Linked DNA regions of Homo sapiens. The protein of the gene in region 3 interacts with the protein of the main gene of each other region in a pairwise test. Each region holds a gene or a part of one and is shown on either strand. Other genes may lie near its edges.

The links.
Region 1: the proteins of ZNF552 (region 3) and CIB3 interact in binary tests that used the Homo sapiens proteins (3 or more experiments, as listed by UniProt).
Region 2: the proteins of ZNF552 (region 3) and CCDC125 interact in binary tests that used the Homo sapiens proteins (3 or more experiments, as listed by UniProt).
Region 4: the proteins of ZNF552 (region 3) and ZRANB1 interact in binary tests that used the Homo sapiens proteins (3 or more experiments, as listed by UniProt).

Annotation. Positions count from the first base shown.
Region 1 is NC_000019.10:16,163,498-16,170,529, reverse strand, and holds part of CIB3 (calcium and integrin-binding family member 3), read left to right. Parts: intron 1-788; coding exon 789-900; intron 901-2,245; coding exon 2,246-2,393; intron 2,394-5,616; coding exon 5,617-5,812; intron 5,813-7,032. UniProt on the Homo sapiens protein: Acts a an auxiliary subunit of the sensory mechanoelectrical transduction (MET) channel in hair cells. Plays a role in regulating hair cell MET channel localization and function.
Region 2 is NC_000005.10:69,315,776-69,322,807, reverse strand, and holds part of CCDC125 (coiled-coil domain-containing protein 125), read left to right. Parts: intron 1-2,227; 5' UTR 2,228-2,267; coding exon 2,268-2,571; intron 2,572-7,032. UniProt on the Homo sapiens protein: May be involved in the regulation of cell migration.
Region 3 is NC_000019.10:57,806,556-57,811,919, forward strand, and holds the end of ZNF552 (zinc finger protein 552), read right to left. Parts: intron 2,549-5,364; coding exon 1,485-2,548; 3' UTR 527-1,484; downstream 1-526. UniProt on the Homo sapiens protein: May be involved in transcriptional regulation.
Region 4 is NC_000010.11:124,966,120-124,973,151, forward strand, and holds part of ZRANB1 (ubiquitin thioesterase ZRANB1), read left to right. Parts: intron 1-474; coding exon 475-662; intron 663-5,845; coding exon 5,846-5,999; intron 6,000-7,032. UniProt on the Homo sapiens protein: Ubiquitin thioesterase, which specifically hydrolyzes 'Lys-29'-linked and 'Lys-33'-linked diubiquitin. Also cleaves 'Lys-63'-linked chains, but with 40-fold less efficiency compared to 'Lys-29'-linked ones.

The DNA.
Region 1 (7,032 bases), about 42 Mb from region 3:
CATTATAAGGAGAGGAAGGGAAGGTATGAAAGTGAAGGTATCTTTGGAGGCAGGGTCTTGCTGATAACATGACAATATCCAGAGATGTGTGGATTATATAGGATTCTCTGAATGCTTGCTGTGATCTGGCCATAAGCACCCTCCCTTCTCCCAACTCCATCTGCTTTAGAAGCTCCTACTCATGCTTCAAAGCCCAGAACCAATGTCCCCTCTTCCAGGAACCCCCTTCTCCTCGCTAGCTTGCTTCCCCCAGTCCAGTCTCCCTTTGTCCTGTGGCCCTCTCTGCACCTTGACCCTGCCCCCAGGGAGGTTAGGGGTGCCTGTGTCAGGCTCTGTATGCTTGAGGTCCAGGCCCAGGGCTGAGTGTTCTTGGGGACCCAGTATACCTCAGTGTGCAGTGAGCAGCTGTGAATGTGAAAGAGAAGGGACTTGGCCAGGTGCGGTGGCTCACGCCTGTAATCCCAACACTTTGGGAGGCTAAGTCAGGTGGATCATCTGAGGTCAGGAGTTTGAGACCAGCCTGACCAACATGAAACCCCGTCGCTACTAAAAATACAAAAGAATTAGCCGGGCGTGGCAGGGTGTGCCTGTAATCCCAGCTACTTGGGAGGCTGAGGCAGGAGAATTGCTTGAACCCGGGAGGCAGAGGTTACAGTGAGCCGAGATTGTGCCACTGCACTCCAGCCTGGGTGACAGACCGAGACTCTGTCTCAAAAAACAAAGAAGGGACAAGCGTCTTGCCTGCTCCCTGCTCCCAGTCTTTCCCAGCTTTTTCCTCCCCACATCAGGCTCTTCTATCGCTACCAGGACCTGGCCCCACAGCTCGTGCCCCTCGACTATACCACCTGCCCCGATGTGAAGGTGCCCTACGAGCTCATTGGCAGCATGCCCGAGCTGAAGGTATGCCCAGGCCATGGGACAAACAGGGTAAAAAATAGTAGAGATGTCTCTCGTTGCATTCCTCTGAGGTCAGTGCTGCAGTTATCCCCATTTTAAAGATAAGAAAACTGAGACTCAGAGAGGTTAAGACACTTGTTCATGGTCACACAGCTACAATGTGACAGAGACAGGGTTAAAACCCAGAGTTGGCTGGTGTGGTGGCTCAAGCCTGTAATCCCAGCACTTTGGGAGGCCGAGGCGGGTGGATCACCTGAGGTCAGGAGTTCGAGACCAGCCTGGCCAACATGGTGAAACCCCGTCTCTACTAAAAATACAAAAATTAGCTGGGCGTGGTAGTGCACACCTGTAATCCCAGCTACTAGGGAGACTGAGGCAGGAGAATTGCTTGAACTCAGGAGGTGGAGGTTGCAGTGAGCAGAGATCTAGCCACAGTACTCCAGCCTGGGCGACAGAGTGAGACTCTGTCTCAAAAAACAAACAAACAAACAAACAACAAACAAAAAACACCCAGAATTGGGAGGATGAAACGAGATAATACAGGCAACAAATTCAGTACAGGGTGTGTTGTGTGTCAAGTACTCAGAGAACGTTAGTTCTTCTTGTAACAGGAGCTGCTAAATGCAGGTTTTTATCAGCAGGATGTTTGACACATGGTTTGTGCCTCCAAGGGGAACTTGTGGGTTGAGTAACTGACTGTGAGTAGGGTTGATTTTATTGCAAGTGACAAAAACCTTATTTGAGAGGGACAGAATGGTTTGGATCAAAATGGATTGCCCCTGAACAACAACAAAAAAATCCAGAGGCAGGGACAGTGTCAGGTACAGCTGGAACCAGGGCCTCTGATGATGTGCTCAGGAATCTCCCCCCATATCTCGGCTCCTCCCAGGAAGAGGTTTCAGTCTAAGGCAGCCTCACCTCTTGAGGCTGTGAAGGGACCTCTCAGCCACTCAGCTTTAGCTTCTGTGAGCTTTGCAAGCAGCAGTAATCAGGTCCCCTCCCTCCCAATTTTTCAGAAAAATATCCCAGGTCAGCCTCTGATTGGCTAGCTTGAGTCACATGCCCATCACAGAGCCAATCACTATTGCCAGGTGAATGGAACTCTCTGATTGGCCTTGCCTGGGTCACATGGCTGCTCCAAGAGCTGGAAGTTGGGGCAAGGTTGCTCAGATCACAGGGGTGGAGGGTGGAGTTGTCCAAAGTCCTGTCCAGGGACCATGGGAGGGAGTGGGTCTTGATGGAGGGTACTTGGAGGTTCCCAGAAGGTGGGTGCTGATAGTGAGACCACATGGACCCCAGAGACCTTGGGGGTCAGAGGATGGCCTCCCAGCTTCCTTTCTGTCCCCAGGACAACCCCTTCCGCCAGAGGATTGCCCAGGTATTCTCTGAGGATGGGGATGGCCACATGACCCTGGACAACTTTTTGGACATGTTTTCCGTGATGAGTGAAATGGCTCCCCGCGACCTCAAGGCTTACTATGCTTTTAAAATTTATGGTGCGTGCGTGGCCCTGGGGTTGGGAAGCATGGGGATGGGGTGGGGAGTGGGAACTGGGTGGGTGGCACCCACATCACAAATATCTCCCCAGGGGTTTTGAGGCCCTATGTGGCCCTGTCCTCCACCCCACTCCAATGCCTCCCCACCTCATTTATTTGCTAACTCTATTCCAGCCACATGGGCCTTGCTGTTCCTCAAACACAGTCTTCGGCCTCTGGGCCTTTGCCTCTGCTGAACCCTCTGCCTAGAACACCTTTCGCCTTGCTCCTTATTTATTTATTGATTTTTATTTTTTATTTTTTTGAGATGGAGTTTCGCTCTTTTTGCCCAGGCTAGAGTGCAGTGGCTCAATCTTGGCTTACTGCAGTCTCCGCCTCCCAGGTTCAAGTGATTCTTCTGCCTCAGCCTTCCGAGTAGCTGGGATTACAGGCAGGTGCCATCACGCCTGGCTAATTTTTGTATTTTTAGTAGAAACGGGGTTTCACCATGTTGGCCAGGCTTGTCTCGAACTCTTGACCTCGGGTGATCCGCCCGCCTCGGCCTCCCAAAGTGCTGGGATTACAGACGTGAGCCACCGCACCCAGCTCCCCTGGCTCCTTCTTACCCTTGAAGTCTAGGTCAAAAGTAGGCCTCTCCCCATTCATCCCCCCATCCCACCATCCTATTTCTCTTCTAGCACCAGGCAATGCTGCTTAATTTCTTGTTCCTTGACCTGTTCACTTCTTATTGACTTTGTCCCTGAGAAGACTCAAAGGTACCAACAGTATCTATTTTGCTCACCACCTGTCATCTGAGCCTGGCTCAGTAAATATTTGTTGAATGACTGAATGAAAGAAAAACAGTTATCTTAGTGCCTGGCACCTTGTGTGCACTCAATAAATACTTGTTTTTTTTGTGTGTGTGTTTTTTTTTTGTGAGACAAAGTCTTGCTCTGTCCCCCAGACTGGAGTGCAGTGACGCGATCTCAGCTCACTGCAACCTCCGTCTTCCGGGTTCAAGCAGTTCTCCTGCCTCAGCCTGCTGAGTAGCTGAGATTGATTACAGGTGCCTGCCACAACGCCTGACTAATTTTTTGTATTTTTAGTAGAGACGGAGTTTCACCATGTTGGCCAGACTGGTCTCGAACTCCTGACCTCAGGTGATCCACCCGCCTCAGCCTCCCAAAGTGCTGGGATTACAGGCATGAACCACCACGCCCAGCCAAATTTTTGTATTTTTAGTAAAGATGGGGTTTCACCATGTTGGCCAGGCTGGTCTTGAACTCCTAACCTCAAGTGATCCACCCACCTCGGCTTCCCAAAGTGGCAGGATTACAGGCATGAGCCACCGTGCCCTGCCACCATAATACTTTTTGAGTGAGTACATGAAAAATAGTTATCATGGTGCCCAACACATAGTAGGTGCTCAATAAATACTTGTTGCATGAATGAATGAATGAAAAAGTTATCAGAGTACCTGGCACACAGTAGACACTAATACTTGTTGAGTGAGTGAATAAAAGAGTTATGGTGCCCAACATGTAGTAGGTGCTCAATAAATACTTCCTGAATGGATGAATGAATGAATGAATAAATGAAAAAGTTATTACAGTGCCTGGTGCACAGTAAGCAGTTAAAAAGTACTTTTTGAGTGAATAGATGAAAAAAGTTATCACAGTGCCCACTACACAGTAGGCACTCAATAAATACTTGTTGAGTGAGTGAATAAATGAAAAACAGATATCATGGTGCTTGATACGTAGTACGTGTTCAAGAAATACTTGAATAAATGAATGAAAGAGCTGTCACAGTGTTTGGCACATAGTAGGCACTCAATAACTATTTTTATTTATTTATTTTTTTACTGAGACAGCGTCTCACTCTTGTCGCCCAGGCTGGAGTGCAATGGCGCGATCTCAGATCACTGCAACTTCCACTCCCTGGGTTCAAGCGATTCTCCTGCCTCAGCCTACCTAGTAGCTGGGATTACAGGCACCCGCACCACGCCCCGCTAATTTTTGTAATTTTAGTAGAGATGGGGTTTCACCATGTTGGCCAGGCTGGCCTGGAACTCCTGACCTTAGGTGATCTACCCATCTCCACCTCCCAAAGTGCTGGGATTACAGGCATGAGCCACTGCGCCGGGCCCATAACTGTTTTTTGAATGAGTAAATGAAAAATTATTATCACAGTGCCAGGACACAGTAGGCACTCAATAAATACTTGTTAAGTGAGTGAATGAATGAAAATTGCACTCAATAAATACTTGTTGAGTGAGTGAGTGAATGAAAATCAGTTACTGTGATGCCTGACACATAGTAGATGCTCAATAAATACTTGTATGAGTGAATAAAAAAGTTATTACAGTGCCTAGCACACAGCAGGCACTCAATGCTTGTAAAAATGAATGAATGAGGTTGGGTGTGGTGGCTTCCACCTGTAATCCTAGCACTTTGGGAGACCGAGGTGGGTGGATCACCTGAGGTCAGGAATTTGAGACCAGCCTGGCCAACATGGGGAATCCCATCTCTACTAAAAACACAAAAATTAGCCGGGCATGGTGGCAGGCACCTGTAATCCCAGCTACTTGGGAGGCTGAGGCAGGAGAATCACTTGAACCCAGGAGGTGGAGGTTGCAGTGAGCCGAGATCGTGCCACTGCACTCCAGCCTGGGCGACAGAGCGAGACTCCGTCTCAAAGAAAAAAAAAAAGAACGAATGAAAAATTCATTGCATAAATACTTGTTGAATGAATGAATGAACTCCCAGCAGGTCCCTGCCCAATTTTAAGGCAAGTTCCAGATTTTACACCAGGGTCTCGGGTGCCCTCCCAGGGCCTCAGTTCCTTTTTTTTTTTTTTTTTTTTGGACGGAGTTTCTGTCTTGCTGCCCAGGCTGGAGTGCAGTGGTGAGATCTTGGCTCACTGCAACCTCCACCTCCCGGGCTCAAGTGATTCTCCTGCCTCAGCCTCCTGAATAGCTGGGATTACAGGTGCATGCCACCACACCTGGGTATTTTTGTATTTTTAGTAGAGATGGGATTTCACCATGTTGGCCAGGCTGGTCTCGAACTCCTGACCTCAGGTGTTCCACCCTCCTCAGCCTCCCAAAGTGTTGGGATTACAGGCGTGAGCCACCGTGCCCGACCTTAGTTTCCCCTTCTTGTAACATGGGCACAGTATGTGCCCACAGCCGGCCTAGCCCTCCTGCCACCTGCTGTCACTCCCCATCCATCCTGCTCTGCAGATTTTAACAACGACGACTACATTTGTGCGTGGGACCTGGAGCAGACGGTGACCAAACTGACGCGGGGGGGGCTGAGTGCCGAGGAGGTGAGCCTGGTATGTGAGAAGGTGCTGGATGAGGCTGATGGAGACCATGATGGGCGGCTGTCCCTGGAAGATTTCCAGAACATGATCCTCCGGGCACCAGACTTCCTCAGGTGATGCTCTCCGTCACCGCCCACAGTCCATTTGCACATCTGAAGGGGCTCTTACGCAGACAGTTCACAGACTCTGTTTCTGAAAATTCCTCTATTCATTCTTTCATGACCTTGGGAAACTTTCTCAATTTCCCTAGTCTCAGTCCCTGCATCTGTAAAATGGGGATAATTAGGGACCCCCTGGGCACCTCTTGCGAGTGGATACACCTCTTTCAGCAAGCAGAATGTGGCTGGACTTCAGCCCTTGTTGCCTGAACAGTTTGCAGTGAACAGACTGTGTAACTGTACTTGGCAGCCTTTGGGGAAAATCAGCCGCCACTGCAGGGCAAAGTACGGCCAATAGGCCAGTCTGACCCAAAGCCTGGTTTTGTACCTCCTGTGAGCTAAGAATGGCTTTTATATTTTCAAAAGATCAAAAAACAATCAAAGAATAATAATATTCCAACCAGGTGGGGTGGTTCATGCCTTTAATCCCAGCACTTTGGGAGGCTAAGTGGGGAGGATCTCTTGACCCCAGGAGCTTGAGACCAAACTGGGGAACATAAGGAGAGTCCATATCTACAAATAAATAAATAAATAAATAGCCAGGTATGGTGGTGCATGCCTGTAGTCCCAGCTACTTGGGAGGCTGAGGCGGGAGGATTGCTTGAGCCCAGGAGGTCAAGGCCGCAGTGAGCTCAGATTGTGCCATGCACTCCAGCCTGGGTCACAGAGTGAGATTCTGTCTCAAAAATAAATAAACACATTAAAAATTTTTTTTTAATTTAAAAAAAGATTATTCCATGACACGTGACAGTGATACGAAATTCACTTTTCTGTGTCCATCAGTAAAGTTGTATTGGCTCACAGCCACACCCATTTGTGTACATTTTGTCTATGGCTGCTTGTGTGCTTCAACAACAGAGTTGCGTCATGGTATAAAGTTGAAAACATCAACTATTTGGCCATTTACAGAAAAAGGTTTGCTGAACCCCAAATTAATATATGGAGAAAATTCAGCACAGCTCCTGGCACACAATAGGTGTTTAATAAATTGCTGTTGCTATTATTATCTTATAATTTTTAAATTTCACTTTATTTTTTATTTTTTGAATTGACAAATAATGATTGTACATATTCATGGGGTACACAGTGATGTTTCTTTTTGTTTGTTTGTTTGTTTTGAGACGGAGTCTTGCTCTGTTGCCCAGGCTGGAGTGCAGTGGTGCAATCTCAGCTCA
Region 2 (7,032 bases), on a different chromosome or scaffold from region 3:
GGGTGTATCATGAGGTCAGGAGTTTGAGACCAGCCTGACCAACATGGTGAAACCCCGTCTCTGCTAAAAATACAAAAATTAGCCGGGTGTGGTGGCGCGTGCCTGTAATCCCAGCTACTCAGGAGGCTGAAGCAGGAGAATTGCTTGAATCCAGGAGGCGGAGGTTGCTGTGAGCTGAGATTGCGCCACGGCACTCCAGCCTGGGCGACAGAGCAAGACTGTCTCAAAAAAAAAAAATTTTTTTTTTGTAGAGACAGGTTCTCACTGTGTTGCCCAGGCTGGTCTCAAACTCCTGGGCTCAAGCAATCCTCTAGCCTCAGCCTCCCAAAGCCTTGGTATTACAAGTGTGAGCCACCATGCCTGGCTAAGAATTTGAGGATCCAAGGAAATACACAGGGGTCCTGGAACCAGTTCCCCTTGAATTCCTTGGGATGATTGTATTTCAGTTTGTTTCTTTATTCCTCTCTTCCTTTATTCAGTTACTAAACAAGTATTTATTGAATGTAGAGTATATCTGCTCCCCACCCCCACGTGGTGCCTCACTCCTGTCATCCGAGCTACTCCAGAGGCTGAACTGGGAGAATCACTTGAGCCCACGAGTTGGAGACCAGCCTGGGCAACATGGTTAGACCTCATCTCTCAAACAAACAAATGAAAAAAAAAACCCAGCTGGGCGCGGTGGCTCATGCCTGTAATCCTAGCACTTTGGGAGGCCGAGGCAGGCAGATCACCTGAGGTCAGGAGTTCGAGACCAGCTTGACCAACATGGAGAAACCCCGTCTCTACTAAAAAAAAAATAGAAAATTAGCCGGGCATGGTGGCGCATGGTTGTAATCCCAGCTACTTGGGAGGCTGAGGCAGGATAATCGCTTGAACCCGGGAGGCGGAGTTTGTGGTGAGTCAAGATTGCGCCACCACACTCTAGCCTGGGCAACAAGAGCGAAGCTCCGTCTAAAAGAAAAAAAAAAGAGTTCTGAAATGTTAAATACTTATAATTGGATTGCAAGGGCATTTATGTGCGAGTGCATTGCTAGGATATTCATGCCTGTATAATACAGAAAGAAACTTTTTTCCCTGAAAAATTCAGCTTTATTATACAGTTATGCACCAAATTATGTTTCAGTCAATGACAGACCACATAGACAGTGGTGGTCCCATAAGATACTATTGTATTTTTACTGTTCCTTTTCTATGTTTAGGTATGTTTACATACACAAATATTGACCCATGTGTAACGATTTCCTACAGTATTCAGTGCTATACCATGTTGTACAGGTTTGTAGACTAGGAACTATAGGCTCTACCATGTAGCCCAGGGGTATAGTAGGCTATACCATCTAGGTTTGTGTATGTATGCTCTATGGTGTTCACACAACGACAAAATTGCCTAACAACACATTTCTCAGAATATATTCCCATCATTAGGTGACACATGACTTTACTGATGGGTTTTCTTCATTTTGTTTGTTAGGTTTTTTGTTTTTTTAATTGAAAATTGACAGATTATGGCTGCCTATATTTATGAGGTACAAAGTGATGTTATGATTTATGAATACAATGTGGAATAATTAAATCAAGTTGATTAACATATCCATCATCTCAAATACTTATCATTTTTGTGGTGAGAATATTTGAATTTTATTCTATGAGCAATTTTGAAATGTTCAATACATTTTTGTTATATTCACCATGCTGTGCAATGTATTGCAAAGGAAAAAACCTTATTCTTCCTGTCTAACTAGGACTTTGTGCCCTTTGACCATCATTTCCCCATTCCTCCCATCCCCCAGCCTCTGGTAACCACCATTTTTCTTTCTGCTCCTTTGAGTTTGATTGTTTTTTATTTTATACATAAGGAAGAACGTGGTATTTGTCTTTCTGTGTCTGGCGTATTACACTTAGCATAATGTTTTCTAGTTCCATCCATGATGTCCCAAGTGACAGGATTTCCTTCTTTTTCAAGGCTGACTAGTATTTCATTGTGTACACACGCACACGCACACACACACACACACACACACCCCACACCATATTTTCTTCACCTGTTCATCTTTGATGGACACTTAGGTTGATTCCATATCTTGGCTATTGTGAACAGTGCTACAGCAAACATGGGAATGTAGACATCTCTTTGACATACTGATTTCAAATGTTTTGGGTAAATATCGAGAGGTGGGGTTGCTGGATCTACTGATGTTTTCCTAACTACTGTTTTTCTTAACTACAGACAGCCCATTTTTTCTTATGATAAAGACGGCATTTGGCTCATGAGCAAGGTGGCAAGATCATCAAGTGAGTCAGACGTGCAGCTCTGGGAAACAGAAGAGGATGACATGACAGAAGGTGATTTAGGGTATGGCCTCGGAAGGAAACCTGGTGGGATTTATGAAATAGAATTTTCACATAGGTCTAGAAAAAGATCAGATGGAAAGAACTTTAGCCCTCCTCCATTTCCGAGAAAGGGAGAAGAAAGAAATGAAGCGAGTTTTCAGTATTCCAAGCATAAGAGCCAGCAAGATACATTCCCTCAAGTGTCCAGAATTTCCAATTACAGACGACAAAGTAGCACTGGTAAGAATGCTGAATTTCCTCTCCTTTCTTTCTCCTGTGCATAGTATCAAAGCTATAACCCTTCCAAAATCTAAAATAAATAACCATATTGGATTTTAGATTTTCTTTTTTTTCTGGACGGAGTCTTGCTCTGTCACCCAGGCTGGAGTGCAGTGGCACGCGATCTCGGCTCACTGCAACCTCCACCCCCCGGGTTCAAGCGATTCTCCTGCCTCAGCCACTGGAGTAGCTGGGATTACAGGCATGCACCACTACACCTGGCTAATTTTTGTGTTTTTAGTAGAGGCGAGGTTTCACCATCTTGGCCAGACTGGTCTCAAACTCCTGACCTCAAATGATTTGCCTGCCTCGGCCTCCCAAAGTGCTGGGATTACCGGCATGAGCCACTGCACCCAGCTTTTAGAAATTTATCTTTATTCATCTCTTGGGATTGGTGGTAGTATAAAAGTAGTTGATAGCCGGGCGTGGTGGCTCACGCCTGTAATCCCAGCACTTTGGGAGGCTGAGGCAGGTGGATCACAAGGTCAAGAGATCGAGACCATCCTGGCCAACATGGTGAAACCCTGTCTCTACTAAATATACAAAAAATTAGCCGGGCGTGGTAGCAGGTTCCTGTAGTCCCAGCTACTCGGGAGGCTGAGGCAGGAGAATGGCATGAACCCGGGAGGCGGAGCTTGCAGTGAGCCAAAATGGCACCACTGCACTCCAGCCTGGGCGACAGAGCAAGACTCCATCTCAAAAAAAAAAAAAAAAAGTAGTCGATGTTTATATTTCTAAATATTGTACAGTACAGTAGTTATGCATCTAATATATTAATGATATCTATAAATGATTACCAACCTTGCCTTTTTTGTGAAGTACTTTTTTTTGCAGTCAAATATTTACTGGGCATCATTAGGTGTCAGGCACAGGTCCAATTTCTGAGAATAATGTCAGTAAACAAAATAGACAAAGGCCCTAATGTCATGGATTTCACATTCTAATAGAGGAGATAGAAAATAAACCTGCAGGCCGGGTACAGTGGCTCATGCCTGTAATCCCAGCACTTTGGGAGGCTGAGGCGGATGGATCACTTGAGGTCAGGAGCTTGAGACCAGCCTGGCCAACATGGCAAAACCCCATCTCTACTAAAAGTATAAAAATTAGCTGGGTGTGGTGGCACGTGCTTGTAGTCCCAGCTACTCGGGAGGCCGAGGCACAAGAATTGCTTGAACCCGGGAGGTGGAGCCAAAATTGTACCACTGCACTCCAGCCTGGGCAACAGAGCAAGACTTTGTCTCAAAAAAAAAAAAAGAAAAAAAACCAAAACCCTGCAAATCAACAGATGTGTAACATTGGGCAGTGGTAAGTGAAGGGATAGTGAGTGATTATGGGGAATGGGGTGCTAGTATTTCAGGCCAGGGTTAGGAAGGCTTCTGTAAGGAGGTGACATTTTTTTTCTTTTTACTTTTCTTTTTATTTTTTATTTTTATTTATTTATTATGAGGTGGAGTCTCACTCTTGTCGCCCAGGCTAGAGTGCAGTGTCACAATCTCGGCTCACTGCAACCTCCGCCTCCTGGGTTCAAGGTATTCTACTGCCTCAGCCTCCTGAGTAGCTGGGATTACAGGTGCCCGCCCCCATGCCTGGCTAATTTTTTTTTTTTTTTGTATTTTTAGTAGAGATGGGGTTTCACCACGTTGGCCAGGTTGGTTTCAAACTCCTGACCTCAAGTGATCCGCCCACCTCAGCCTCCCAAAATGCTGGGATTACAGGCATGAGCCACCGTGCCTGGCCTTTTTCTTTTTTAAAAAGAGACAGTCTCACTGTGTCACTAAGGTGGAGTGCAGTAGCATGATCACAGCTCACTGCAACCTCAAAGTCCTGGGCTTAAGCAATCCTCTTGCCTCAGTCTCCTGAGTAGCTGAGACTACAGGCATGTTCCACCATATCCGGCTAATTTAAAAGAAATTTTTTCGGCCAGGTGCTGTGGCTCACGCCTGTAATCCCAGCACTTTGGGAGGCTGAGGCGGGTGGATCATGAGGTCAGGAGTTTCAGACCAGCCTGACCAACATGGTGAAACCCCATCTGTACTAAAAATACAAAAATTAGCCAGGCATGGTGGCGTGCACCTGTAATCCCAGCTACTCAGGAGGCTGAGGCAGGAGAATCACGTGAACCTGGGAGGCGGAAGTTGCAGTGAGCCGAGATCGCACCACTGCGCTCCAGCCTGGCGACAGAGCAAGACTCAGTCTCAAAAAAAAAAAAAAAAAAAAAAAAAAATTCTAGAGACAAGGTCTCACTATGTTACCCAGGCTGGTCTCAAACTCCTGACCTCAAGCAGTCCTCCCACCTTGGCCTGAGCACCAGAATGAAGGGGAGAGTAAGGCAGTGGATCTTTGGGAAAGGAGTGTTCCAGGAAGAACAGAGATGCTTCTGGTTATTTTAGGAGGTCATGAAACTCTCAAAAATTGTCAAAACAGTTAGTCTTAATTTATCATAACCAAAAAGAAATTATACCTTACCTTATGGAAATAATAAAATTTAGCATCGTATTTTGATAAAATGTTACAACTCCAAAATGATCGGGAGTCTGTGGATAAGCCCATGCCTGTACCATGGCACCAGCTGTTATCTGGCTAAATATTTTGTAATCTATGTTGTAAAACTTCCTCTTCTGAAACTTCCCCTCAAAGTTGAACAAACACAAATTAGAACAACATGAGAGTGATTTAAGAAACATGGTTTCAGATTTACAAAAATACGTGGTAGCTCGTGGTAGCTCAGGGTTCATCCCCATCCTTCAACATCCCTCTTGAAATCAGAATGGGATTATTTTTATATTTTTCTTCCAATTCCTTATTGTGTATAGAGAATGGATACTGTTTTGAAAGCAAAATGTTGGAAACTGAGCATGATGCTAAGATGCCTTTATAAAAACATGAAGATGCCAGGTGCGGTGGCTCATGCCTGTAATCCCAGCACTTTGGGAGACTGGGGTGGGTGGATCATGAGGTCAGGAGTTTGAGACCAGCCTGGCCAAGATGGTGAAACCCCGTCTCTACTAAAAATACAAAAAAATTAGCTGGGCATGGTGGCAGGTGCCTGTAATCCCAGCTACTTGGGAGGCTGAGGCAGGAGAATCACTTGAACCTGGGAGGCGGAGGTTGCAGTGAGCCAAGATCACACCACTGCACTCTAGCCTGGGCAACAGAGCAAGACTCCATCTCAAACAAACAAACAAACAGCATGAAGAAACACTGGGGTATAAATAAGATTTAAATAGTAATAGTATGAGTTCCCATTTTGTTGGGTTATGAACTTTTCTTTTTATTAAAGTTGGCCCTATCACTAATAGATAATTTCCAAAATACCACACATTTAATGGCTTAAAACAACACAAATTTATTATTTTACAGTTCTGTAGGTCAGAAGTCCCAAACAGGCTACGTCTGGTAGCTGATGCCTATAATCCCAGCATTTTGGGAGGCCGAGGTGGGAGAATCACTTGAGGCCAGGAGTTCGACACCAGCCTGGTCAACATAGAAAGACCACACTCCACAAAAAAAAGTTTAAAAATTAGCAGGTGTAGTAGTGTGCACCTGTAGTCCCAGCTACTTGAGAAGCTGATGCAGGAGCACTGCAGCCTGAGCAATAAAGCAAGACCCTCTCTCTGTGGGAAAAAAAGTCCCAAATAAATTTCAGTGGGCTAAAGCCAGGGTGTTGGCAGGGTGCGTTCCTTCTGGAGGTTCAGTGGGAAGACTCTACTCCTTTGCCTTTTCTAGCTCCAGAGGCTACTGCATTCCTTGGCTCATGGCCCCCTCCCCATCTTCAAAGCCAACGATGGCTGAGTCTTTCTCACATCATATCACTCTAACATTTACCTTCTCGTCTCCCTCTTTCATGTATAAGGACTCTTATGAGTACACTGGACTCACTTGGATAATCCAGAGTACTCTCCCATCTCAAAATCCTTAATCTCATCACATCTGCAAAGTTCCTTTTGCCATGTGTTCACAGCTTCTGGGAATTGGCATGTGGACATCATATTCTGCCTACCACAAGTATTAATAGAACAGAACTTGTCACTGCCAACCCAGAGTCACTCTGCCCTCCTTGGAAGCCTGTATCATCAATCACAGTACAAACATGATTTAGGTTTTGCCTTAGATACTGTCATGTTAATGAAATTTCAGAATAGCAAAGAAAGTTGTTTTGAGAAATATTTTTTCAAAGCAAACATTCTTCTCAATAAAATTTTTTTTTTACTTCCTATACTCTTGCTTATAACTTGCCACTTTAATTTTTTTTTTTTTTTTTTTTTTTACTGCCGTTGAGGCAGAAAGGAAAATGAAGCTCTTAGGAAGCTCAATTTAAATTCTCAGTTGATCACATTAAGGAGCAAATAATTGAAGTTACAGGACTCTTCTAGTCATTCTTTTTGGAAAGAAATTAAATTTAGGTTTTTTTTTGGTTTCTTT
Region 3 (5,364 bases):
GGGAGGTAGAGGTTGCAATGAGCCAAAATCACGCCACTGCACTCCAACCTGGTCGACAGTCTTTAAAAAAAAAAAAAAAGCAGCCGCACGCGATGGCTCATGCCTGTAATGCTAGCACTATGGGAGGCCGAGATGGGCGGATCACAAGGTCAGGAGATCGAGACGATCCTGGCTAACACAGTGAAACCCTGTCTCTACTAAAAATACAAAAAATTAGCCAGGCGTGTTTGCGGGCGCCTGTAGTCCACAGGACTGGCTGAGGCAGGACAATGGCGTGAACCCGGAAGGCAGAGCTTGCAGTGACCTGAGATTGCCCCACTGCACTCCAGCCTGGGGGACAGAGTGAGACTCCACCTCAAAAAAAAAAACACAAAAAAACACAAGCAGCAACTCAAATATCCATAAACGGATGAATGAATATATAATGACATTTCATGGCAGACTATACTTCTCAGCAATATACAACAAATTAACTCATGTCTACATTGATATCAAAATAAGCATGATGCAGGAGAGCACCCAGGGATTATAAGAGGAAACACTTTATTACATCAGTCAGAAAATTCTAGAAAATGGAAAGTATTATACAGCAGAGTAAATCAATGGTTGTCTGCATAGAGAAAAACTTTATAAAGGCTCCAGGTGAATACAAAGGTGATAGATTAGATAAATTCATTATTGTGACTCTGATGATGGTTTCATGGGATTATAAGAAAATTCAAGCCAGGAGCAGTGGCTCACGCCTGCAATCCCAACACTTTGAGAGGCCAAGGCGGGCAGATCACGAGGTCAGGAGATTGAGAACTTCCTGGCTAACAGGGTGAAACCCCATCTCTACTAAAAATACAAAAAAGGTAGGAGTGGTGGTGGTTGCCTGTAGTCCCAGCTATTAGGGAGGCTGAGGCAGGAGAATGGCATGAACCCAGGAGGCAGGGCTTGCAGTGAGCCGAGATTATGCCACTGTACTCCAGCCTGGGTGACAGAGCGAGGCTGTCTCAAAAAAAAGAAAAAGAAAATTCAAGACTTATCCTACAGCTCAAATATGCATACTTTATTGGATGTCATTTATATATTTTATTTTTGAAACAGGGTCTCACTCTGTGGTCCAGACTGGACTGCAGTGTTGCAATCTCGGCTCACTGCAACCTCTGCCTCCCAGGCTCAAGCAAATCCTCCCATGTAGCAATCCTCCCACATGACAGCTCTCCTGTGAGTTATGCAGCCAGACTTCTGGATAAATATCCTGTATTTGTCACACTAGTAAGGCCTTCATTCAGTGTTAACTATAATCCTGAAGGAATACAGAGGTGTGGCTACAAAACTGCCCAAATTTATTTTACTTGTAAGGACTCTTCTCTAGTGTGAACTCTCCAATATCCAAGGAGAGCAGACCTTTGGGTAAACATTTTCCACATTTGCTGCAATCACAGGATCTTACTCAGGTGTGTATTCTCCAATATTTAATGAGACTGGACTCACTGCACTCATAAGCCCTTTCTTTTGTGAACTCTCTGATGATGACGAAGTGAAGAGATTTGCCTAAATTTTTTTTCACATTCACTGCACCCGTAAGGCTTTTCTCCAGTGTGAACTCTCCTGTGTTTAGTGAGACTGGAGCTTTCGGCAAAAGATTTCCCACATTCACTGCACTCATAAGGCTTCTGACCAGTGTGAACTCTCTTATGAACACGGAATGTAGAGCTGTGGGTAAATGACTTCCCACAATCACTGCATTCATATGGCCTTTCTCCAGTGTGAACTCTCTGGTGTGCAATGAGGTGGTACTTGTGCCTAAAAAATTTCTGACAAACCTCACACTCATATGGCTTCTCTCCAGTGTGAATTCTCTGGTGTACAAGGAGGTGGGACTTACTGTTAAATAATTTCCCACATATCCCACACGTATAAGGTTTTTCTCTAGTGTGAACTCCTTGATGATTACTGAAGCTGTCATATTTGCTAGAGGATTTCCCACATTCACACCACACAGAAGGTTCTTCTGTAGGGAGCAGTCTCTCGTGCTGACTGAGTATATCTTTGGTGCTAAAATGTTTCATGCATCCTCCACAGCTGTAATGGCTTTTTCCCCCATGAAACAGAGACACACACTCAGTTTTGCTGTTTGACTTCCCAGTGTGAGTGGCCTCTTGCTGGAGTAATCCTGACCTGAGCAAAAAGTCTTTCCCACTCTCACTGAAGACAGATGACTCCCCTGACACATGCAACTTACACCTCTTCGCAAACAACGCCTCCTCAACACTCCCTCTGTAGGGTTTCTCTCCAATGTGCTCATTCTGGTGCTGATGAAAGTTTCCACTGTCATACAATTTATTCCCCCAGGCCTCACACCTGTGCAGTTTCTGCTTGTGATGTGTTCCCTGATGATCTGCCACATGCAAAATGTCTCCCAAGATCGGGCCACACATCTCACAGGGGTGGGCCTTCTTGGGAGACACACCTGCCATAGGAGTCCTGACCTGAGTCTCTCTTTGTATATAAATACTCTGCTTAGAAGGTGCCGCCTCATCTTCCACTCCACACCAACAACCTGAAAGCAAGAAAATGCTGGTGAAGTGCATGTTAACTCTGGTGGGAAGGCACAGACCACCCACAAGTGTATCTGAAAAACTGAGGAATTACTCCAAGGAAGTACTTGGAGGAACAGGATGTTGGCTTCAGGTGGAAGATGGTGCTATGTATTATTACTGGACTATAATGGTCACAGAATGTAGGAGGCCTCATAACATAAAGGACACAACCATGTATGTAACACAGGGAGTAGAGGCAGGGTCTACAATCCCTGCATCTGCAAACCACTCATCTGCAGAATTTATGTCCTCATGACATGCGAGTGCTGTAGAGAGGGATTTGTCCAGGCCAAGGAAAACACAAGCACAACACAGCAGCTTCTGCTTGAGGACAGTTTAACAAAGTGTACACATTTGCTAACACAAAACCTGTATGCTAATACTGGAAACCACTGCAGATGAAGATGTGAATAAAATTAAGATGTGAGGTCCAGAGATGTGAAGATTATTCAGGGGAATAAATATCAGACTACAAGCTCATGTACAAATCAGTTAAAGGATTTAAAAAAAAAAAAAGTACAACTGACAAGGAGTACAACTGACAATTCTGAGGTTCTTAACAATGGGGAAGAGGCCAGTACCAGTGGCTCACAGCTGTAAACCCAATGTAGGAAGATCACCTGAGCCCAGAAATCCAAGACCAGCCTGGGAAACATGGTGAGACCCTGTCTCTACAGAAATTATTTTTAAAATGGCCAAGCATGGTGACTCATGCCTACAATCCCAGCACTTTGGGAGGCTAAGGCAAAGGGATCACTCAGGCCCAGGAGATCAAGACCAGCCTGAGCAACACAGCAAAACCTCTCTACAAACATTAGCCAGGTGTGATGGTGTGCACCTGCAGTCCTAGCTACTCAGGAGACTGAGGCTGGAGGATCACTTGAGCCCAGGAGGTTGAGGCTGTGTGAACTATATTCACACCACTGCACTCCAGGTAACAAAAATGACAGTGTGAGAACCTGTCTCAAAAAAGAAAAGAGAAGAGGAGAGGAGAGGGGAGGGAAAGGGAGAAGAGGGAAGAGGAAAGAGAAGAGAGAAGAAAAGGGCCAGGTGTCGTGGGTCATGCCTGTAATCCCAGCACTTTGGGAGGCAGAGCTGGGCGGATCACCTGACGTCAGGAGTTTGAGACCAGCCTGACCAACATGGAGAAACACTGTCTCTACTAAAAATACAAAATATTAGCCTTTGGGGAAAAGAAAGAGAGATCAGACTGTTACTGTGTCGATGTAGAAAGAAGCAGACATAAGAGACTCCATTTTGTTCAGTACTAAGAAAAATTATTCTGCCTTGAGATGCTGTTAATCTGTAACCCTACTCCCAACCCTGTGCTCCAGAAACATGTGCTGTGTCAACTCAAGGTTAAATGGATTTTGGGCTATGCAGGACGTGCTTTGTTAAACAAGTGCTTCAAGGCAGCATGCTTGTTAAAAGTCATCACTACTCCCTACTCTCAAGGACCCAGGGACACAAAACACTGCCTAGGAAAGCCAGGTATTGCCCAAGGTTTCTCCCCATGTGATAGCCTGAGATATGGCCTCATGGGAAGGGAAAGACCTGACAGCCCGACGCCAGTAAAGGGGCTGTGCTGAGGATTAGTAAAAGAGGAAGGCCTCTTTGCAGTTGAGATAAGAGGAGGGCATCTGTCTCCCGCTCATCCCTGGGCAATGGAATGTCTGGGTGTTAAAACCCAATTGTATATTCCATATACTGAGATAGGAGAAAACCGCCTTAGGGCTGGAGGTGAGACATGCTGGAGGCAATACTGCTCTTTAAGGCATTGAGATGTTTATGTATATGCACATCAAAAGCACAGCACTTTTTTCTTTACCTTGTTTATGATGCAGAGACATTTGTTCACATGTTTTCCTGCTGAACCTCTCCCCACTATTACCCTATTGACCTGCCACATGGTAGAGATAATGATCAGTAAATACTGAAGGAACTCGGAGACTGGTGGCGGCAGGGGGAAGGCAGGGTTCCTCCGTATGCTGAGCGCCAGTCCCCTGGGCCCACTTTTCTTTTTTTTTTTTATTTTTTATTCTTTATTGAGACGGAGTCTCGCTCTGTTGCTCAGGCTGGAGTGCGGTGGCACAATCGCGGCTCACTGCAAGCTCCGCCTGCCGGGTTCACGCCATTCTCCTGCCTCAGCCTCTCCGAGTAGCTGGGACTACAGGCGCCCGCCACCACGCCTGGCTAATTTTTTTGTATTTTTAGTAGAGACAGGGTTTCACCGTGGTCTCAATCTCCTGACCTCGTGATCCGCCTGCCTCGGCCTCCCAAAGTTCTGGGATTACAAGCATGAGCCACCGCACCCAGCCCACTTTTCTTTCTCTATATTTTGGATCTGTGTCTCTTTCTTTTCTCAAGTCTCTCATTCCACCTGACGAGAAACACCCACAGGTGTGGAGAGGCAGGCCACCCTTCATTAGCCGGGCATGGTGGCACATGCCTGTAATCCCAGCTACTCAGGAGGCTGAGGGCAGAATTGCTTGGGCCTGGGAGACAGAGGTTGCGGTGAGCCAGATCGCACCATTGCGCTCCAGCCTGGACAACAAGAGCGAAACTCCATCTCAAAAAAAAAAAAAAAAAAAAAAACAATGGAGAAGGCCAGGTGCAGTGGATCATGCCTGTAATCCCAGCACTGTGGGAGGCAAAGGCAGGCGGATCATGAAGTCAGGAGTTTGAGACCAGCCTGGCCAATATGGTGAAACCCCATCTCTACTAAAAATACAAAACATAGCCAGGCGTGGTGGTGCACGCCTGTAGTCCCAGCTAC
Region 4 (7,032 bases), on a different chromosome or scaffold from region 3:
AGTATGGAAAGCTCAGCATTTGTTTTGATTCTGCTTTAAGAATGCAGTGTAAAGGGCAGGAGGAGCTCAACACCAGCTGGAAGCACATCCCTGTCTCCTTGGTTTCTGCAGAGTCAGGATGAACGCAGGACCGGAACCAGGGGCTCAGTGTCTCTTGTTACGTCTGGTTTCTCATACTAGATTATTGATCTTCGATCCAATTCATGCAGCCTAATAGTTCCTCTAAATCTCACCAGAGCCTGGAGCCTGCACTGATGGTAAGGTAAATGTCTAGGCAGTTCTAGTTCTGGAAGGAAAATTTTTAAAGGGAAAGGAAAAAACTTATTTTCCTTACTCTTATAGGACATTTAAATGATGCATCAGGATCCAGGAAGCACAGAGAAACACTTAAAAGATTTTGGAGTGATTGCTACGGTTTGTGTTTTTTGAAGAAAATGAGAATTAAATGCTTTTCTATCTTGATGCTTGTTTTAGGGGTTGTAGAAGGTGATTTAGCTGCCATAGAAGCATACAAGTCATCAGGAGGAGACATTGCACGTCAGCTCACCGCAGATGAAGTACGCTTGCTGAATCGTCCTTCTGCCTTTGATGTTGGCTATACTCTTGTACACTTGGCTATACGTTTTCAGAGGCAGGATATGCTAGCAATATTGCTTACAGAGGTAAGTTTGGCGTTTTGGTTAAATGTTCTTTTATATTAAAGAAACCTGTTCTTTAGTTTTCATTTTTGATTTTATAATGTTTCTCTAAGCAGCTTTAAAATGTTTTGAATTCTTTTACCCCCTTTTAAAAATAACATTAAACTTAAGAGACTTAATTTTTAAGGGTATATGCTTTCAAATATTTGAATAGTCACAACAATGTTTGACTCATCATGTTTGGTTCATACAAACCTGGGATGTATCTGTCATTCTTTAGTCATTCAATTAACAGATATTTATTGTGCATTTACTGTGTGCCATGCACTAGGCTGAGAAGGGATACAATTGTAAAGATACTGGCTCTTTCTTCATTAAATCTCCAGCAAAGTAGAGAAATGAACAGGTAATTCTGTGCAGCCTGTGCCCTGGTAGATGTAAATGCCAAGTGTTATGCCAGTACTTGAAGAGTTTTGAGGTGTCTTGTCGTCTTTCTTATAGCAGGTAATGTTTTTGCTGCAATTTGAAGAGAAAGAGTTAGGAGTTAGCCACATGAAGTGGATAAGGGAGAGAAGGGAAGTTGAGGAAAGCATTTTTACAGGGGGCAGAGATGGTGGAATTTGTGGTGAATCTAGGGACTTGCAGGTAACTAAGCATGGCTGAGATGGTGATTGGGAATGGAGAGAAGGGAAGTCTGAAAGATAAGCAGAGGCTGGATTACGAAGGATCTTCTGTGTCAAGGAATTTGAAGATTATCCCTAGGCACTGGATGGTGTTAGGTATGGGCGCAGGGGAGTGAGCAGAGCAGATTGTGTTTTGGCTGCTGCACACTGGAGAGGGGTGAGCCTGGTTAGGAGGGAGTTGCAGAGGTGCTGGCAAGAACTTCTGCCAGAAGGGCAGAAGGGTAGCCATAGAAGGGTACCCAGAAGGGTAGCCTTAGAAATGGGAAGAGGGTTAGAGGGTTGGAGAGACTGAGACAGGCCCTCAGTCTGAAGAAGTAGACTGATTGGATATGGGAAGATACAGTGTGGATGTAAGTTGATTCTTCAGTTTCTGGCTTACATAACTAGGTACATGCTACCAATGATAGAGATTGTGTATGAATTATTCAGAATGTGACTACATTATCCAGGTTTTTTTTTTCTTTCTTTTTTTTTTTAAGCTGGAGTCTCACTCTGTTGCCCAGGCTGTAGTATAGTGGCACGATCTTGGCTTACTGCAGCCTCTGCCTCCTGGGTTCAAGCGAGTCTCCTTTGTCAGCCTCCTAAGTAACTGGGATTGTAGGCACATGCCACCATGCCTGGCTAATTTTGTATTTTTAGAAAGGTGGGGTTTCACCATGTTGGCTAGGCTGGTCTTGAACTCCTGACCTCAAGTGATCTGCCCGCCTCGGCCCCCCAAAGTGCTGGGATTATAGGCATGAGCCACCGTGTCTGGCCAAGGTAACATTTTTTAATGGTAAGAGAAATAGAGTAAAAGTGCAGAGAGTCATATTAATTGTGGATTCAAATTTTGTCAGTATACATCTTTCATATATACTTTTGCATATTTGTTTATTCAAATTTGCCAATATTTGGGAACCACTGCAGGGCACTGTATGGGGATTAAAAAATTTGAAGGTTAGATGGAAACATGATTGTAGTAGCTAACCCCTGTGTCCAGTTTGGTAAGATTCCAGTGAAGCCGGGGTGGGGGGCTTGAGAGACTGAAGGCCATGATGAAAACAAAAGGGCAGGCTTATTGAGTATAAGGGAGAAGGGAACTTTTCAGATAGAGGGATCCAGGTTTTGGAACATGAGATAGAAGAATTGGAGTTTTTCTAGTGTCGAAGGCCTGGCTGCATTTGTGTTGTGGTGCCTAGTTGTGTTGTCTATTGTATATTGGAAGGGCTGTCAATGTGGAGTTGTAGTTGCTGGTGGTGACAGGAGCCAGGATAAAGAAGGTGGTTGTGAACTAGGGTGAAAGTCTTAAGGGGCTCCCCTAAAGGTAGGTAGAAGATTATTACAAGGTTTTAGAGGGGCCATTGTGAGTCATTGAGCTCCTGAGACAGTCTGAGGAGTAACAGTGGGATGATGATCGAACATCAGTATATTTATTGCAGTATCACAGATTGTCTGGAAACTTAGCAGCTAAGACAACAAATGTATGTTATCTCACAGAGTTTGTGAGGGTTAGAATCCAGGAGCTGCTTAGCTGAATAGTTTTGGCTCATGATGTCATGAGGTTGCAGTCAAGTGGTCCAGGGCTGTAGTTGTCAAAAGACTCAACTGGGGCTAGAGTATCTGTTCCTAAGCCCACTCAGGTGGCTTTTGGCAGGAGGCTTCAATACTGTGCCATGCAGGCCTGTCTACAGGGATGCTCATGATACAGCAGCTGGTTTTACCCCCAACAAGTGATCCAAGAGAGGCACAGAGTACAAGAGAGTGATCCAGTGTCTTTGAAACCTGCAGTGTCTTTTATAAATTGATTTAGGAAGCAACATACCATTACTTTTGCTGTATTCCGTGGGACGTGTAGAACAACCCTGGAACAGCGTGGGAGAGGTGGAGGGGATTTGTTCCAGGCAAAGAGCAAAATTGGTCATGGATTCAGTCTCCATGGAGTAAATACTCCAAAGGACAGAATTAAAGGGGCCAGTAGGGAGACTGGAAGTGGGGGAGTCTGGACTAAGTCTAGACTAAGGGGGTGTGTTGCAGAGAATGCTCAGCCAAGTTCTTTTGGAATGAGAACAGGAGAACATTAGAGTTGGGGATATGTATGTGGGGCAGGAATTTTCATCGGTTTCTGTGTCATGGACCATGTTGGTAGTTTCATGAAACTTATGGACTCCTTCCCAGAATACTGTTTTTAAATACAAAAAATAAGAAGTAAATGAGATTACAAAGGAAATCAGTTGTATTGAAGTAATAGCTACCAAAATACTAAACTAAATTTGTGATATATAAGAAAATACATTTTAATATAGGTAAAAAGTTGGGGATAATTGATTTAACTTGAATTAAAACCAAATTCCCATTAAAGTACATGGACCATTCCCAAGATCATGGACCCTAAGTTAAGAACTCCCAGCCTACGGAGATGGTTGAGAACCATAAGGTTGAAGGAGGTGAGAAGGTGAGTGGCAGGCTTCAGGGGCACATCCTGCTTAAGGATGGTGGTGGAAGGGGTTGTTTGGGGGCTAAGTTTCTTTTAGAATGTTTGTGGTAGTCAGGGTCCAGTCCAGGTGGTTTTTGGAAAGGTCTTTCCAGGTTTTTGGAAAGGGCCTGAGAGCTAGCTGATGGGAATAAGCTATTTTTGAATTTACTTTGGGGGAGCCATTTTAACTATGTTACTTGAGAAATAGTCAATTATATTCTGAAAATATTTAATATTTGGTTTTCCATGTTTGAGTGTTGACTAATGGTTGGGCTCATGGAGTTAAGATATAGTGAGAATTTTCATGGTTAATGGTAATCTTGGCCAATAAAGTCTAGTTGAACTGAATTTCCACGTAGGAGTTTTTAAATTTTTTATTTTTTTCTTTTCTTTTGAGACAGACTTTCTCTCTGTTGCCCAGGGGAGTGATCATGGCTCACTGCAGCCTTGACCTCCCTGGCTCAAGTGATCCTCTCACCTTTCAGCCTCCCCAGTAGCTGGGACTACTGGTGCATGCCACTAATGCCTAGCTAATATTTTGGGGTTTTTTGTAGAGGCAGAGTTTCATTATGTTGCCCAGGCTGGTCTTGAATTCCTGAGCTCAAATGATCCTCCTGCCTTGGCCTCACACAGTGCTGGGATTACAGGTGTGAGCCACTGCACCAAGCTGCAGTTTCAGAATAGGGAGTCAGGTAACTGTGCTGGGTATGCAGGGTTTTTGAAATATTATTTCTTTAATAGCAATAGCAGTTAGTTGTCTGCATATATGATGTAGATAACATTATCATTAAACCTTACTCTTTGAGAAGAAGAAGAAGGGGCTGGAAGACCTGTTGCTTCACACCCCACTGTGGCTGGAAGGCTACCTTTGGGATAATCGTCCAGGTTGGTGACATCAGGGAACAGGCTCACTGTGGGTTCCCACGGTATTCTCTTTGGGGTTTTTTTTTTTTTTTTTTTTTTTTGGCAGAGTCTCTCTCTGTCACCCTGGCTGGAGTGCAGTGGCGCGTTCTCAGCTCATTTCAACTTCCTCCTCCCGGGTTCAAGTGATTCTCATGCCTCAGCCTTCCAAATAGCTGAGACTACAGCTAATTTTTGTAGTAGTATTTTTAGTAGAGACAGGGTTTCATCATGTTGGCCAGGCTGGTCTCAAACTGCTGAGCCGAAGCAATCCACCCGCCTCGGCCTCCCAGAGTTGGTGGGATCACAGGCGTGAGCCATTGTGCCTGGCCTTGAATTCTGTTTGTTACTCGCAGATGCTCAACTGTGATTTTAGAATTCTGTGTATGTATTTTTATTTAGCTCCACAAACTAGATATGACTGAAATGTGAGGTTAAATTAAATCTTTGCAACATTTGTTGCTATTTAGCATTTTAAAAAGAATAAAAAAATAACAAAAGAAAGTTCTAGCCTTCTTTGGTTTGTTGTTTTCTTGCTTAGAGGCCTGTGCAGTAGTGCTCCCATCTCACTCCTGTCAGGCTGAGCTTCAGAGGTTGGCAGTCTGTGTTTAAACTTGCAGATGCCAAATGCTTTTTTAAAAACTCAAGAGTGGTAACAAATGGAGAGGAAGAAAGGGCTTGAGGTCAGTGGGAACTAACCCTTTAAATACCGTGCTTTTTTTAAGTCCAAGTTAGGGTACTTGAAACTTGTGGTGTGGGAGAAGAGTATTTGCAGTTTCCCTTTATCAGCTGTGATTCTCTGCTTCTAAAGAATGTTTTTATTGTGTGCACGATGGTTAGTCTACTGAGGTTTTCTGTCCTCTCTCCTCTTCCTGTGATGTGTCTATGAACAACACCCTTTTCCATACATTTTTATGTGCATCTTTGAGTATTTCCTTGTGATAAATTCTTAAAGAGAATTACTGAATCAGAGGATAAAACATTTTTGTGACTGTTACTGAAAACTTATTCTGGTATATACTTTCATTGGTAAGGAAATAATACCAGTGTATTTTAAGATTAAAGAAAACCTTGAGTTATTGGGAAATTTTGCTGATTTCTTTTAAATACTGTTGTTTTCTGCTTCCACTTATGATACATGAGATGAGAGGAAGGTTTCTTTTGTATTTAAGGTGTCTCAACAAGCAGCAAAGTGTATTCCAGCAATGGTGTGTCCTGAACTGACAGAACAAATCCGGAGAGAGATAGCTGCCTCTCTTCATCAGAGAAAGGGGGATTTTGCTTGCTATTTTCTGACTGACCTTGTAACATTTACATTGCCAGCAGGTAACTCCAAAATCTAACGTAAAAAGACTTTTTTATTTTATTATAGTTACATTTGTGTATGTAGGTGAAAAATGTTTCTGTTAGAAAGCACATAACATAGCTACTGTATGTGCATCTTAAATTACTTGACTGTCTTATATATGCTGGAAGTGAGCATACAGAGGATTACTTGTTAGGAAATGCGTCTGCTATCTGAGAGGAAGACAGCAGTTGATAGTAACGGATTTCTTTGTGGACCTCAGATTATTTTTTAAAAATCTGTTGTACTCTTTTATTTTTCTCTTTGGTTTTATTTTAGAATATCCTTTAAAAAAATCTCCTTTGAAAAATTTTCCCTTTTCATGCTTGTGTGTTATTTGAAATTAGATAGCTATATTGGTTACCTGGTATTAAGAGATGGGATTAGAACATGAGCTTTTGATGGGTAGAGTCAGGTTATTTGAATTGAACACACTGCATCCTCTTGAATATGTCATTCCTTTTTTACTCATTTATTTCTACTATGTTTGTGAAGGAACTTTTCATTTTTCAATTCATTGACAGTTGAAAACATCCTCCAGAATGCGTTTTGTCAGTTGGCATTGAATAAATACACCAAACACCAAACGTTTCTAAAATCTTTCATCTGAGATTCTGAGATCTGTTTGTTTTGTTGCTGTTTTTTTTTTTTTTAGATTGAAACGGGGTCTTGCTCTGTTGCCCAGGCTAGAGTGCAATGGGCGTGATCATAGCTTACTGCGCCTTCAACTTCTGGGCTCAAGTGATCTCCTGCCTTGACCTCCTGAGTAGCTAGGACTATAGGCACATGCCACCCACCCCTGGCTAATTTTTAATTTTTTTGTAGAGATGGAGTCTCGCAGTATTACTCAGGCTAGATCTCAGTGTTTTTAATTTTTATGTTCAGACAAACGGATTTTTACAAATTGTAGGAGATAGTAACTAAGTTTTCTGAAACTGGAGGAAGTTTCATTTGAAATGCACTTGTTCTGAGTATTTAAGCTTACCCCAGAATGATTAGATTTTTAAAAATTTA